2 separate regions of the Homo sapiens genome follow, and region 2 is linked to region 1. The links come from fine-mapping of genetic effects on gene expression. A gene starts in region 1. The other region holds a variant in brackets. All regions are shown on one strand. Distances are between the middles of the regions. Region 1 holds the start of GALNT2 (polypeptide N-acetylgalactosaminyltransferase 2). Region 2 overlaps GALNT2 (polypeptide N-acetylgalactosaminyltransferase 2).

Region 1 (8,337 bases):
GCCCTTCTAACAAGAGGGGCAGGGCTACAGAGGGAGAGCAGTGGAGCTCAGAACCTGGGATCCCACCACAGGAACCCCTCGTTCAGGGACACGTCTGTCCACTGTTGGACACTACAACTGCCTAACCGCCAAGGCAAGCTGCACCCTCCACCCACATTCCCGATGGCTGCCCACTACTGGGATCCCCATTCTGACACCACAATTGGGTACAAGAGAGCTGGCATGGTGTCTGGACAACTTCCCAAAAAGTCCGTCTCTAACAGCATTTAAGATTCATAGCCCAAACCCCAAATGAACCAGTCAGATCAATCTCAGAGGTGGGGGTAACGGATAAAAAAAAGAAAGACGACTATTTTCCAGAAATCAAGAATTGTATCAGGAATACCGTGAACTTAAGATTCCTGGTTCACTACACTTTCAAGGGGATATTTAGGCTTTTATTTTTTCATTTTCCTCTTTTAGAGATAGCAGTTATTCAGCACCCACTAACAGTATTTAACTCTCCGAACAAGGCCATGAGGTAAGAATGATTACTCCCACTGCAAAGATGAGGAAACTGAGGGTCAGAGAGGTTCAATGCATCAGTGAAGGTCACTAAGCACAAAGAGGTAAACAGCTAGGTCTCACTCAATGCCAATAAGTGGATTTGTGCCATTTCCCTTTAATGTCTACTACTAGCTCAAAAACATTACTAGTTCCCAAATGGTTCAGCTTGGCATTTGAAGCCCGTTACAATTTAGTTCTGAATTTCTCCAACTTTACACCCTAACGTTCCCCTCCATGTGTACCATGGTCTAGCCCGGCAAGGTCCTTCACTGTTCCAAGAAATAACCTGCCCGCCTCCCCGCATGATTCCTAGAAGATCCCACCCAAAGTCCCCCACCCTTGGACTCTCGGGCAAGGGCCACAGGACTCGTGCCAGCTCAGGGAATAAGGGTGATGCTACTGTGCAAAGTGGACAGGCTCCCAGGGCTCCGGATCATGTCCCTCAACTAACACCGTCCCTTACCTCCCAGCATGCAGGCACACAGGCAAGGGGTCTCAGGCTCCACACACTCTTACAGCAGAGAGAAAACCCTTCCCTTTCCACCCTAAACAGCCACACTTCACCCACAGGCAGCTTCATTTCCAGAGAAATCCCTTCCTCTCTTCTGCGGCTCCATCCACTGCCAACGTACCAAAGCCCAGGGGAGACTTAACATGGTTAAAATTTTAAAGCATTTAAGAAGCTCAAAGGAAAGGCACGCTTGAAGTGCAAATCATCAATTTAGGGGGAAAGAGCAAAATATGGGGGGAAAGGGTATGGACACAAATGTAAATGAAACATAATTTTAAACAATATTTTGAATAAACTGCTTTAACATACATGTCCTGAGCCTGGGTGTTGAGTCCCGAGTTGTGCGGCAGTGCCTGAGATTGGTCTTCAGCACTCCCTCCTGCTTAGTTTACTAAACCTGCAATCTGAGGTGAGCTGGCTCTCTGGGTTTTGCCAAGTGGAGAATAACAGTTCTGTGATGAGTTACTTAACAGGCAGGGCACACAATGACAAGCCTGGGCTGGGCTGCTGAAGCAGCAGAAATCCTAGTTGGACTCCCCTCAGACGATCCCTAAAGCCCAATACTGCAGCCTAGTACCCTATGAAAAACGTCAGGATGTGCAGAAACTGGCTAAATATGGAATAAAAGCCCTGACTTGAACAGTATGAGGCAAGAGAAAAAATATAGGTCCACTTATCTCTAAAAAAACTATAGCTAGCTTTTAAATTCTGCCTTTCTGTGCATGGCCCGCTATCTTTTTTTATGTCCATACTTTACAAGCCAAACAAACCACATTTTTTTTTTGGTATGAGAATGAAATAAATTTAGAGACACTTCTAGTGTCTAAATCCATGGAAACAATTGGGGAAGAAAGAAGACTACACGATTTTCCTATACATCAGGCATTCGTGACAGCAGGGCTCTATTTACCTCCTTCAGAAACCATCTTAAGGCTTCTCTTTAACCCTGGGTCCACCACACGAAGTTAATGAGTCTTCCACTGCAATTTCAAAAGCTATTGCATTTACACACCTCTTCCTCAACCGACAAATCACTAAAGCATCCTAAGGGGTAGCATTAAATTTTATGGTTCGTTGACAGAAAGAATAGAATCCCAAATCACCAATCCATGTGTAATTAATTGTTCATTTCCCCCACTTTTTCTACCTGGTCTCCGTACCTGTCTATATTGCCACCAGGAATTCTTTAAAAAAAACAAAACAAAACAAAACAAAACAAAAAAAAACAAACTAAGAATCACACACTTCAGGAGTGTCTGAAGACTTCTGCATGGAAGACCCCTCACACCATCCAGGAACTGAAGCCCACCAGAGTGAGGAATCAGCCTCCGGGAGGCGAACGAGCACGCTTGCTCTTTCTAATCACGTGTACTAATGAAAGTGGCAGACTAAGGAAAGAGAAACGCCAAGGGTGGCTTATGTGTTTGGTTTTCTTTGCATGAAAGGCAGAAAGCTTTGCCAGGTCTCACCAGCACACCAGGCTATGCAGAGTGGCCAAGGCACAGTTTACCGGGAAGCAAAGTTTTAAAAATCATTCCAGTTTTACACGATTATATCTCTGAATGGACTGCACGGCTTTTGCTGCCTGCATGCTCTTTGCTGTTCAAGAATAAACCAAGTCTTCGCGTACATATACTACCTATACCATTTTTTACAAAAACAACGCTAAGAGTACAATGTCAGCTCAGAAGCTAGGCCGATTCAGCACGTGGAAAGAGGGCTTTATTTCTGCCCTTCTAGATAAAACAAATCCACGTAATTTACCAGAAACCACATAAGGCACCCATTCCACCTAACATCTTCGGCTATGAATGAATGAATGAAGCAAAGAAAAAACCTCTGAAGCAGCCAAACCCCGGCGTGGACATTTAGGGGTCTGACTTCAGAACTGAAGTCTGTTCATCTAGTTAGTTCCCTCTGGCTTGTTTCAGGATACCACTCTCTTGTTCCAACCCAACCACCCGTAGTCCATCTCCATTAACTCAGAATTTTCTGGGTTTGCGGTGACACTAAATGTCACAGTAACGAGGGTTACAGGAATTCGGAAAAGATAACGCTGCTTTCAAAGCCGAGGAGCCAGTAAAACACTACAAACGTCCCCTGCCGGCATGCTCCAGCACACAGCCCGACGCCCTGCTCTCCCGGCCGGCGCTCGGCCGCAGGACCGCGCTGTCCCGGCTCCTCTCGGCGCTCACCATCCTCCCGAATGCCCAGGGCCCGGCCGTCCGGAGCGGCGGCACGAGGACGCGGAACCGCAGAGCGGCTCACACGGTCCCCACAGCCAGATCACTCGGCCCCTGGAGCATGTTAAAAACACAGCCACAGAAGAGGGATTCTCCCTGAAGCGGGGAGTGGGGATGGAAAATGCAAGCGCAGGAGGCCACGTCCGGCTCGCGCGGGAGGGCCGGGGGCCGGGTTGGGCAGAGGGTAACGCTGGGGCCGCAAGGGAACGGCCGGGACTGGCCTCGCTCGGGGCGCAGGGGCGCACTGGCCCCTGGCTCGCACGGGCCCTGGGGCTTTACTTGGCACGGGAGCGGCCGCCCCTGCCCCCCAAAGGTAAAGGGCAAAGAAGGTGGCAGAAACACGGAACCCACGCCCCGCGGAGTGACAGGGGGAAAGGGACGAGGATTTGCAGCCGCTGGTATCAAAGGGCTGAAAAGAAACTTGGACTCCTCTCTCCTGCTGTACATGACGCGTTGGAAAAGCGGTCGCCTCTCTCTCCTCTCCTCCCCACCCCCTTTGTGTTTCCCAACACCCCCATCCCTAAACTTCCAACCGCAGGGGATGGGGCTCCCGGCGGCCGGACAAGACTCGAATTACGACGAGCAGAGAGAGGGGCGACGTCCACGAGAGGGGGCAGAGAAAGGCTGCGGGGGCCGCCCTTTCGGAGCCCGGCGTGCGCAGAGGGGCCGGGTGCACCCCTGCCCTGGGCACTCGGCGCGGAGGCCCGGGACGAGGGCGGGCGACGCGAGCGGAGGTCCGGGCGGAGGAGCGCAGGGGCGGCGCGGAGAGGGCAGGGGACAGGGGCGCAGGGTGGGGGGTGGGCGCAGGGGCCCGGCCGCGGCAGGGCGCTCCACTCACCTTCCTGCCGGCGCCGCCGCCCGCGCCCCCGGCCAGCGCAGAGCCGCCCCCCGAGTACATGTAGTAGGCGATGCCCAGCACCCACAGGAAGGCGAAGCAGAGCAGCATCCGCGAGCGCCGCCGCATTCTCCCAACTCGGCCGCCGGCGGGGCCGCCGCTGCTCGCGAGTGCTGCCTGGGCCGGCCGCGGGCGCGGTGGGGGCCGGGGGAGGAGCGGAGGAAGGGGAAGGGCGCGGCGGCGGCTCCTCCTCCCGCGCGGTGCTACTGCTCGGCGGCGGCGCGCACTCGGCGCCCGAGCTCCGCCCCGGGCCGGCGGCGCCGCGCGGCACCAGAGCAGGAAGCAGCGGCCTCGGAGGCGGCGAGGGGGGTCAGGGAGCAAAGGGCGACCAATCGGCGGCGGCTGCGGGGGCCGGGGCGCGGGCCGCGGGAGGGGACTGCCGCGTCTCCATGGCTGCAGCACGCCGGGCTCCGCCGTGAGGGCCTGGGCGCCGCCCCGCCCCCGGCCGCCCGCCCCTCAGCGTGCTCCCCCCGCCGGCCGCCCCCTCCCCCGTGAGTGACAGGTGGCTGCCCCGGGACCCGACTGGAGCGCGCGCACACGTGGGCAAAGAGCCTTGCTCACGCACACGGGGCCTCTCGATTACGGGGGCGGTAGTGGCCTCGGTGCTTCCTGCCCAGACTGTCACCTCTTCAGCCTTGGTCTTTGGGGCCACCTCAGACCCTTAACGGGCTTGCTCTTATTGGCCAACTGACCTGAGTTTTTGGTGCAAACCGCCCGCTTGAACCCGACTTTGCTGCTGCTTGCTGCAGTTTTCTCACTAATCTTGCAGCAAAACATTCCTGACCCGCTGGTATCGATTTTATTTATCTATATAGGCAGATGTGGAGGTTTTGAGTTGGTAGGAACTGAGAAGGTAATTTTCAAAAGAACATTTTTCTGTGGGTGACAGAGCTATCAATGGTAGAGTTGTTCTTTTCAATAAACACAAAATGAGGAAGAAGGAAAGCAATAATATATTGTTTAAAATCTTTTCTTTCTCATTCGTTGCGTTCTTTAAAAAGCACATTAAGCATCTTTAACGATACAAGAAAACGATCTGTCTTGTAACATAATCTATGTAACCTTGGTGATGCCCTTGCAACACGCAAAGCTTCCAGTGTTCCTAAGAAAGACAGAAATTTTACTTAGAACTTGATATATTAAATGTTTTCAGGAGCTTCTCGGTCAGAGGATAATGGCAGCTGCCTGATATAAGTCCGTACCCATATCCTCAACGAAACAAAAACAAGCCTTCAGCATTACTTAGAGAGAATGCCATGAACTGAACATTAAATTACTTAAGTAGAAGAAAGAAAAGATACCAAATTCCAACTGAGCTCCCTCCACTATTGCCAAGGACTTAAGTGAAGTACAGGGTTGTCACCTCTTTATAAATAGAAAGTCCAACACCAAGAACTAAAAACTGAACAGAGGTCAGGTGCCTTATTGATCAAGGGAAGAGATTTGAAAGAAAATGGGACAAGAGGTGAGAGGCTTGAAGGAGCCTTGTTTCTGGGAAAAAGTCAGATAAATACGAAAAGAAGATAATGTCCTTCAGAGGCCTGACAATGAAGGGAAAGAAGGAAGTCAGAAGGGAAAATTACAAATCCTGCAGAAATGAAAGAGAAGACAGCCAGTCCCCTCCCCAAACACCAACATTATCTATTAAAAACTGCATTTCAGTACACAGATAAAAGAAAACACTCTTGAACCGGGAACCCTGCCTCAAAATGCCTAGTAACAGAAAAACATCAAATCAACTGCATTTAAAGATTCTGCAAAAAGAAAACAGAAATCACATTTCTGATGATAAAAAATAAATCATAACATTTTCGCTGATGAAAACCCCCACAATAAAAACCATGAAGCATAAGAAAATTGTAATACCACATGTCAAACTGAACAAAGTGTCACGTATTTGTATACACATACACACACACACACATATCTAGGATAAGAAATTTCAAGAACTGAAGACAGACTAGACAAAAATTAGGAAGAAATGCAACAAGGGTTGAGCAAATTCAAGAAGGAAATTGAAAGTAATGACAAAAACTATCCCAGAAACAAAGAATAATTACAAGGTGTCCAAGGGAAAATATATTCAAATGAAAATATGTAAAAGGACACTGAAGAATGGCAAGAAAACAATCAAGAAATTGAAAATAATATAAAGATAGAAGTAAAAAGGTTCAGAGAGAAGAGGTTAAAATAAAAGCCAGGAAAGGAAGACCAAAATACATGTTAAGTGGAGTCCCTAAAGTACAAACATTAAACAATAAAACCTAATTAATATTAAAACTATAACCCCAGAAAATAATCCAGGAATAAGGGAAAATTTAAATGTACATGTCAAAAGTGACTTCCATGTACCTTGGGAAATGATCTGGAATTATCAACTCCTAAATATATTTTAGTAAAACGATTAGATTTTAAAGGCAAAAAAGATCAAATTGCTTATAGAGATAAAAATTTATGCTGGCATCAGACTTCTGAACAGCAACATGCAAAGCCAGGCAACAGTGGAGCAGCATTAACAAGGAACAAAAGTGCCAGGCAGGCTGGGCATAGTGGCTCATGCCTGTAATCCCAGCACTTTGGGAGGCCAGAGTGGGTGGATCACCTGAGGTCAGGAGTTCAAGACCAGCCTGGCCAAAGTGGTGAAACCCCATCACTAAAAAAAATATGAAACTTAGCCGGCAGGTGCCTGTAATCGCAGCTACTCGAGAGGCTGAGGTGGAAGAATCATTTGAACCCGGGAGGCAGAGGTTGCAGTGAGCTGAGATCATGCCATTGCACTCCAGCCTGGGTGACAGAGCGAGACTCCATGACACACACACAAAAAAGTACCAGGCAGTGATTTTTATACCCAGCCCTCAAGTGTCAAGGTTGTAGGCAAACAGATATGACCTGAATGCAAAAATTCAGAGAACGTGACTCACATGGGCCTTTCATGAGGAATCTTAGAGAATGAGCTTCCTCCAACCAAGAGACAGCTGAGGAAGCCAGCAGAGTGACTAATGGAGAGCATTTTGTATATTCAGAAGGTGAAAGACTAGTGTATATACATTATACTTTCTGATAAACTTAGAACAGGTGCAACTAAAGACAACTGGAGGAGAAGGGGAAGAGCGAAGGGAAAATAGAATAATATCATTGTCTGCAATATCAGTAGCAGGTAGTAGTGAAAGGATACCATATAAAACAGACAGACCAGATGTTAAAAGGTTAGAAACAAAATATAGGAATTAAGGGTAATATATTAAAAATATAAATAAAAATCACTACAACAAAATATATGTATTCCCAAATATTGGAAACCCTATTCCAAAACCCCAAAAGTTCTAAAAATAGCAAAGAATACATACCAAATAATGAAAGAAACACAGTAAGTGTGGCACAGTGATGCAGTAGTTATAATAGGAAACAATATGACACAGCTGAGACCAACCCACATCAGATATAACAATTTATAAGTGGGCTCAGTTCACCCTTTAAAATAAAAGATTTTCAAATGTAGGCATAACGGAAACCCCAACTCTGAAAAAGCAGGTGCTGTGATTCTGATATCAAACAAAACAGAGTAGGCCAAAAAGCATTAAATGAGATGAAGAGGGACAATTTATAGCCCAAAACTTCCCTTCCTAAACACTTATCAATTGTATATCATTAGGATTTGATCTGCAAAGTAAAATCATTATTAGTTTGATGGAATAAGCGATGTATGATAGAGATTAAACTTTAGACAATGTTAGAGGTAGAAGAAAAAAGGTTATGGAAGTCTTTCCATTGTACATGGGGCAGGTCTGAAGTCACTGTAGTTTCTAGACCTGGGAATCAGAAGAATAGCTAGATGTGACATGGGGCATTTCAAAGACAAAGTCAAAACTGCAAGGACAAAATGTACCTCATGAGAACAACTAGAATTCATGAGGACAAACTGTAATGTACCTCCAGTGTTGATTATGGAAATAAAAAACAAAACACAACAAAAACCCACAGTGAGATACCACTTCATATCCATTAGGATAGCTATTATATAAAATTTTTTTTTTTTTTTTTGGTGGACACTTGCTCTGTCGCCGAGGCTAAAGTGCAGTGGCACAATCTCGGCTCACTGCAACCTCCACCTCCTGGGGTCAAGCCATTCTCCTGCCTCAGAC
Region 2 (8,337 bases), 87 kb before region 1:
TGTGGATACCAGGCTCCCTGGAAGAGTCTCAGGTCAAGAGAGGGAGCCCAGGCTAAAAAGATTTTGCAGGTCATAGTTGCTGTGCATAAAGTTTGGCAAAGTGCCTCAGGAGGCCTCCCTCTTACTTCTATGTTTAGCTTTTTTCCAAAATAAAAGTTAATGTTTTCATGCCTTAGTTTCCCCATCTCTGAGAAAAGACAGTGCATATATAATGTAATCAGGTCTAAGCTCCAGTCTCTCCAGAATCCTACAACCAACTGCTGTGTTCAGGCCTTATCTACAGACTAGAGAACTGCACTAGTTCCTGGCTGGAACCTCTGGCCTCATCTCCCCACGCTACTCATCCCTCACACAACACGAAATGCCCCCTTCATCCTGCCCCCCTGCTACCCGGGCCTCCCGAGGGCTCTCTGTGTTCCACCACGCCCCATGCAAACATTTCCCTTTCAATGCCTCTGGAGTCACAGTTCATCCTACCCATTCAACCTGATCTGTGCTCAGTTCTGGCCTGTTCCATGACGGTTCTCCACATACAACAAGATCCTTCTCACTTCCCTGACTTGGCTTATGATTTTTTTTCTCTGCTTTTAAATTAAAAGTATAATTTACATACAGTAAAATTCACTCTTCTTAGTATCCAGATCTGGGAGCTTTGACATCTGCATATAGTCATGCAACCACCACCACAATCAAGATATAGAACAGTGCCACCATCCTCCAAAACTCCCCTGAGTACATTTGTAGTTAACTCTCTTCTCCAGCCCCTGGCAATCCTTGATCTGCTTTCTCTGTAGTTTTGCCTTTTCCAGAATGTCATATGAATAGAAGTATACAGTATGTAGCCTTTGGACCTGGCTTCTTAATGCACATAATGTACAGAGATCCATCCACATTGTGTGAACCGTGCTTGTCTCCTTTCCACTGCAGGAGGTATCCCGCCACATGCTGCATTCCACCATGTACGCAAACCACAGCTTGTTCATCCATTCCCCAGTCGTGGGACAGTTACGTAGTTTCCAGTTTTGGCAAATATGAATAATGCCATTATGAATCCCAAGAGCACATAAATTTCCATTTCCCTTGGATAATATCTAAGGGTGGGATTACTGCGTTGTATGAGAACATGTGTTTAGCTTTATAAGAAACTGCTCAACTATTTTCCAAAGTGGTTGTACCATTTTGCATTCCCACTGGCAAGGGATAAGAGTTCCAGCTGCTCTATGTCCTTGCCAGTACTTGGTGGCATTTTTGCTTTTTTTCCCCCCAAAGCCACTCCCCTAGGTGTATAGTGACATAATGCAGCTTTCTATAAGTTTGCTATAATGGTGCTTACGACACGCCAGGTATCATGCTCAATGGTTCACACACATCTCAATTAATGCTCACTCAATACTACACAGTAAGTTCCAATGTTTTCTCTGCTTTTAAATGCATCTAAACTGAAGTGGCATCTGAACCAAGGTCAAATGACCACAGTACACGAGGCCTTAAATGAGAGCCCTCCTGGGATGGTCTTATTTACTCCTGCAGGGATTCTCCACAATTCTCTCAGGCTCTGACTCAATGTTACCTCTTTCGTGATAGTTTCTCCAAATCAAAACATAATACAGCCCAGTCTGACCTTGCCTCTTACTGCACTTGATCAGCTCTCTAATGATAGAACCAAAGTATTTTCAAAACAGTTGATGTTTCTTATCTCCCAAACAAGACGGCTAGCTTCCTCAGGCCAGAGGATCTGTCTCCCCAACATTTCATCTTCACATTTTAGGGACTGACTGAAATGAATCAGAGTGTGTAGACAGTGTTCTGACATCAAAGGATGAGATGTGCTATTAAAAAAAACCACCACCAACTTGCTTACCATGGCCCCGAGTTCCACATTGCTTTCTAAAGCCACAACCTGCAGGTTACATTCTGCCCCTGCATTAGAAAGTTAAGCAAATTTAACTGCAGAAAATGTGATAGTTTAAGGGCCAAAAAAATAAATTGATCCGTGACAAACGATAATAAAATATCCAGCATCTAGGAAGCATGTTGAAAATGCTGGCAACTTTATGAAGGAATAATCAATTTTAGGAAACGAACGTTGAAGGTAAAGAAACGCAAAAAGGAGTCTCTTGAGTGAACTCACCAATGAATATATCCTACCAAGGACAAGCTGACTTCCCTAGGATGACATTGCAAACCAGTGTGGAAGCCAGAAACAGGCCTAAAATGACACGGTGAACTTCAGCCATGTAACCAGCCCAATATGTACAATGCAAGGAGTTTTCTCCCCAAGATTCAGGATCCAGGTCTTTGCTGTAAAACACACACACACACACACACACACTCTCTCTCTCTTTCTCTCTCTCTCTCTCTCTCTCCCTCGTCTGCTCCCCCATCCCAAAACCGCACCGTCTCCAGACATCAACCCCAGAAGGTCATCACCACCCAGAGGCCAGGTCTACGTGGTATTCCACTTGTATCTAAAATCAATGACTCTCTCTTCTCTTCCCCACCCTAAAAACACAAAAGCTTTACTCTTCTATCACCCACCCACAGACTGAGCCCCATGACCAGGACACAGTCTCTCCCACCCAGACAGAGCCCACCACACAGGCCCTTAGCACTGATCCCATGGTTTTCCTGATCTGACACAATAGTTCCCTCCCCTCTCCATGTGGCAAAATCACTACAGAATTAGTCCTTTTAAAGCAAGGCTTTTGTCCTCCACTCAGAACTCCTGAGTGAACTGGAGGTTGACGCCGAATGTCTTAGCGACCCTCAGAGTGCCCTCACGACCTGGCCCTCAATCTAATCTCTCTCTTCCAGTCAGGATGGGCCATTTGTGATCTTCTGTGGGGTCCTTTGTGCTATGCACTTGGGAGCCCAGTTTTGGGGTTATAATCACTCTTTCTCTTAGAAATGGTCTTCAAATGACAAAAGCTCCAGTCCTCACAAAACCTAGCTCTGCCCATGGGACTGTCCTGGGAGAGTCCTGCCCTGTCCCTCCCAGCCCCAAAGGAGGAGACCCTGTCCTGATTCAGTCATTCCTGATCTGTTTTGGAAGATCCTGAAAGAAGCTAAAATTTCTTTATCTTGACCCTCTCTGAATAAGGCAGTTTTTAAAACAGCTACAGGTTGAATTGTATTCCAATTTTCAGTTCAAGGACAGCCAGCTGAAATGATGACCGGGATTAAGAGATGAGCTATAATTAGGGAGAGGCCGGTCTCTCCCGGAGGTCAGCGGCTGCAGGCAGGGCCCACCTCCGAGCGAAAACCTGCAGGGAGCCCTAGGCAGCCAACGAAGAACAGGGCGGGCAGGAGCCAGCACAAGGGCTCTCACAACCCCATGCAGGCCCCAAACGGTGACTGCCTCAGGACTTCCGCTCCACAGATGTGAGAGAAAGTGACGCTCTCACACAGAAGGGAAACCGAGGACCTGGGAAATACTTCCGCAGAAAACTGCACGCGGAAACGGGGTGGGGGGTGCATGCGGCGCGGGGCAGCCTCATCTGGGAGGACCCTGATGTTTGGAAACCAAAGCCCCAGCCCCAGACCAAGACCCCATCCAGCAAAGACCCTGTGGTCAGAGAAAGTCTTTTTAAGTGCTAGTACGTAAATATTAGAACTGCAAGGGGCCTTGGATGTCATGCCAAATGATAAAACCACAAGTTACCAATGTGATAAGGTGAGTTATAAATAACCTGACAGAGACTACCTGAGTAAGTATGCCAGGGCTGCCATAATAAAGTACTACAAACTGGGAGGCTTCAGGAACAGAAACACACTTTCTCACAGTTCTGGAAGTCTGCGCTCAAGGGGCGACAGGGTTTGTTCCTTCCGAGGGCCATGGGGGAAGATGCTGTTCCAGGCCTCTCTCCTTGGCTTAGAGGTGGTGCCTGTTGTCTATTCTCTTGTCACTGTCTTCCCTCCACGTGTGTCTGGCTCTGTCTGAATCCCCCATTTCATAAGGACACCAGTCATACTAGAGCCCATGCTGACGACCACATTTTAATTTGATTATATCTATAAAGATCTTATCTCCAAATAAAGTGACATTCTGAGGTCCTGGGGGTTAGGGCTTCATTGTCCCATAATACTACCTTCTCTCCCAGAAATTTCTCAGAAGGGGCAGAATAGGCAAATATAAGGGGGTCCAGAGATCTCTCACCTGTGCCGGTTTGGCACATTCCTTCTGACTCAAGATTATTTCTTAAAAATACCAACGGCATCAGCTCTGTACCAACTCGGGGAAAGCCAGAGCAGAGGGTGATGAGCTAAAGGGCCGGGGTTTCTTTTCTAGTAAGAATGTGGCCCACGTGGAGAAAAACTTATCCACTGTGGACGAAGGGCCTATGTCTCCACTGCAAGTGCAGGGTGGACGGCAGCTTGACTTCTGACAAGACTGAATGGTGAAATATTGAAAATGTACAAAATCCACATCCCCGTTGCACAATGGCAATATGCTCTTGGCCTCACAGCTCACCAGACACTGATTAT[G/C]CAAGCTCTTTTCAAAAAGCACTGAGGCCCCAAGAAGCTAATCTGACAGAGACTTATTATTCTCCAAACAATGGGTGAAAAGAGAAACCATTTCTGAGTCTTTATAAGGTAGACACCCACGCAGACAGACCCACACGATAAATCTGCATGAGAGTTTGTAAGAGGCACTGGGCACCAGTAGCTTTTTTGTTGTTGTTTTGTTTTTACCAGTAGCTTTTATGAACATATCAGTTCCACCAGACCCCTCCACAGAGTGAATGGTGAGTGCCACCAACCAGGGGCCCCCGAGGCCACGCCAGGAGGCCCAGGAGTGGGAACAAAGGCTGTAATCCATCTCCAAGAGCGGAGTGGCCTCGGCCAGACAGACTGAGCTCACTGTGTCTGACAAAAGAAACTTTTCACAACTGAGACCTCTGGGTTGGAATCATGAAAAGAACTCAGGGGCGTGGGGCTGGAAGGGTACTTAGGGGCCTGATGATTGGTGAATCTGGAAGGCGTCCTCAGATGTTCTCGATGAATTAATTCCCCAGCCCTTTCAAAAAACACCACCAAGGCCACTGTAATGCTTGCTTCTACACAGAAAGCATTATGGGTGTTTTTTCTTTTTCTCTAATACATGAAAATGTGCTTACTGTGATTAAAAATAAAACTAAAAACGCAAAGAGACCCTTAAAATGTTGAAGGCTGACCCCCCATCAATGACTGTTTAAGTGTGTAGGTGTCCAGTCTGACTACAGAAACACTCCCGCATGTAAGGAGAAAAGAACCGATCATTAGCAGACATCTGAGTTTGTCTCAGGCATGGCAATGGGCCTATTCATTTTCATTCTCTCATTTAATTTTATCTCATTTAAATGTATTCAGGCCAGGGGCAGTGGCTCAGGCCTATAGTCTCAGCTACTCCACAGACTGAGATAAGAAGATCGCTTGAGCACAAGAGTTTGAGATTACAGTGAGCCATGATCACGCCACTGCACTCCAGCCTGGACAACACGGTAAGACCTCATCTCTAAAAATAAAAATAATAAATAAAATGTAAATAAGTATTCAGAAGGACTGAACGCAGTTTAGCCAAGTCACCAAGTATTGATTATGCTTCACTCACAGTGGACAAACACACTGAAGGCACAGAAAGATGGAGTGATTTTCCCTAAACCACAGCCAGAGAGAAGGCCATAGATACAGGCAGCAGGGCAAGAAGCTAAAGCCTGAGGAAGCAAAGGAAGTCCAAGAAAGGTGAGCAAATGAACATCACGTTAGAGCCAAGGACAGGGCTGGCGCAGATGGTCACTGCCTCACAATGACAAGCGGTTCAAAGAGGAAGCTACCTGAGAGTGGACGCAGGCTGAGGAGTGTCCCACTCACACAAAACACGAGTCTGTGTAGGAGAAGGATTATCTAGTTCTCTCATAGCTTCTTCTTATTTCCCTCCTGGCTATGCACTATCCTAGCAGCTTTCAAACTTTTTTGCCAAAACCCATAGTAACAAATAAATTTGATGTAGACATCCATCCCCCAAACCATGTATTTAAATATATACGTTATATAAATACATGCACGCCCATCCATCCACATACGGTGTCATAAAAGGGTACCTACTCTTACATGTATGATGTGCTCCAGTATTTTCTATTTAATTATTCATCATGAATACTGATGTTATTCTCCTCTATTAGTTTCATGATCTACTGAGTCACAACTTACAATTTGAAAAACCTTGCCCTCATCTTTGAAAGAGTCAGGTTCGAGATTCTAGCCAAGTGTCGGATGCGCTTACAGGCCATGGTTCCAAGCCCGACTGGGGATTCAAAGAAGTAAAAGGGAACCCATCAGCCTGAGCCCCCTGAGAGCTTTACTTTTGTCAGAGGCATGTGAGCCAAAGCAACTCCATCTTGAATAGGAGTTGGGTAAAATGAGGCTAAAACCTACTGGGCTGCATTCCCAGACAGTTAAGGCATTCTAAGTCACAGGATGAGATAGGAGATCGGCACAAAATAAGGTCATAAAGACCTTGCTGATAAGACAGGCTACAGTAAAGGAGCCGGCCAAAACCCACCAAAACCAAGATGGCCACAGGAATGACCTCTGGTCGTCCTCACTGCTACACTTCCACCAGCACCATGATAATTCACAAATGCCATGGCAATGTCAGGAAGTTACCCTATATGGTCTAAAAAGGAGAGGCATGAATAATCCACCCCTTGTTTAGCATATCATCAAGAAATAGCCATAGAAATGGGCGACCAGCAGCTCTCGAGGCTGCTCTGTCTATGGAACAGCCATTCTTTTATTCCTTTACTTTTGTAATAAACTTTTCACTTTGCACTACGGACTTGCTCTGAATTCTTTCTTGAGCGAGATCCAAGAACCCTCTCTTGGGGTCTGGATCGGGACCCCTTTCCTGTAACACTGGTTCATCTGTAGTTGAAGCCATCAATGAACTGAGGAGCTCTGCTTTCCTTCCTTAGCTTACGTGGTGGGCACAGGGACATGTGGGGAGATCCTACAGAAGAAGGCACTGCTGTAGAGAGAATCAGAAATTCTCCTCCCAGGGCTATCTTGGGGAGGCCGGGTAGTCAGAAAATCATTGCTTCTTCAGGAAACAGCACTGTTTACAAAACAACTAGACCATGCATTACTTCGAGGGCATCATCCTGTGCCCCAAAGCCACCTTACATATCTGGCTTGGCCATCATCCTGAGCTTCCTGGAGGCACTACGTGGACAATCCGACCCTCATCTTCTACCATCACCCTGTCACGGGTGTGCAGCGCTGTGCTGCGATGTCAACGGTGGTCAGAGCAAGTGACACAACAGTGCGTTCTACTGGGACACTTCTCCAGGGGCCTTCCCTCCAGGAGGACATCCCGGAGGTCCAGAAAGCTGCAGGGGAATGGAGGGAAAAGACAACGGTGGCCACGGTGATCGTCAACTGTAATCATTATGTTGGCAAAGCTATAAAATCAAACCCAGGACACCACACAAGATCCTGAACATATTTCCACAAGAGGAAGAATATTGTGCTCCAGGCAACCCAGGTAGTGCACCTTAAATAGGAAAGAGTTCAACAAGTCACACAAAGTTACAGACACCTGCATGCCGGGTGCACCAGCCTCGTCCTGAGGAGTTGAGAATGGTGGCCCTGGCTGGGAATTCTCTAAGTTGCTCTGCCACTGGGAAAATAGATTCCTTAGGGAAGCAAAGAAAACGATGGATTCCTTTGTGCTCAGAAGACAGCAGGCTTCCATCCAGAAAACTGCACAGTCAGGGCCAAGCAGTCAAAGCCCCCATTCTGAACGCCAAATCCCTGGGTGGGAAAAGGAGTGTGTGTCTGTGCCTCCCGCCATCCTAGAAGGCCAAGGAGAGGCTGAATGTCGCAGCGCATTCTCTAATGAGGAGCCAGGCACTCCAACTGCTCCACAAAGGTGTCTTAGACAGAATTATAAGTAGAGCTTAAGGTCTAAAAACAAACAAACAAAACAAAAATGCTCTACCAAAGAGATGAGACTTTCCTTTCAGAATCAAGTCACACATCCCTCCCCAATTTCCAACTCCAACTCTAACAGAGACATTCACTTCTCTGCAAAGGTTGCGGACAAAAACAAAGCGGGCAGAAAGAGGAAGTGGAAGGAGTTGTTGTACTATGTCTTTTTAAAGCAGCTGTTGGAAACCGTTTCAAAGGTTGAAAAAGGATTTTTGTTTTATCCAAATATAAGTTTCTGAGAAGAAATATGACACCTTGGGTGATGTATGAAGTCATGCCTTTGATTCCAAGCCTGTCAAGCCTCTTCTGAGTGTTACATCTCAGGCTTCCTATGGTGAGGTAAAGAGGGAAGCTTCGGTACAGAAAAAC

Evidence for each region. PIP is the estimated chance that this variant, and not a neighbour inherited with it, causes the effect.
Region 2: its variant is fine-mapped to the expression of GALNT2 in whole blood (TOPMed, PIP above 0.99).

Annotation. Positions count from the first base shown.
Region 1 is chr1:230,063,208-230,071,544 of GRCh38, reverse strand. It overlaps GALNT2 (polypeptide N-acetylgalactosaminyltransferase 2), which reads right to left and starts at 4,307. Exons shown (of 16, transcript NM_004481.5): 1 at 4,139-4,307. The coding sequence starts at 4,264. RefSeq lists silencers at 1-47, 3,492-3,551, 3,992-4,801 and enhancers at 2,498-2,577, 4,932-5,091.
Region 2 is chr1:230,150,240-230,158,576 of GRCh38, reverse strand. All of the region lies in intron 1 of GALNT2 (polypeptide N-acetylgalactosaminyltransferase 2), which reads right to left. Among named protein-coding and RNA genes, the nearest start is that of GALNT2, 87 kb to the right of the region's middle. RefSeq lists an enhancer at 8,126-8,337. The variant G/C (reference allele first, on the strand shown) is at 4,486.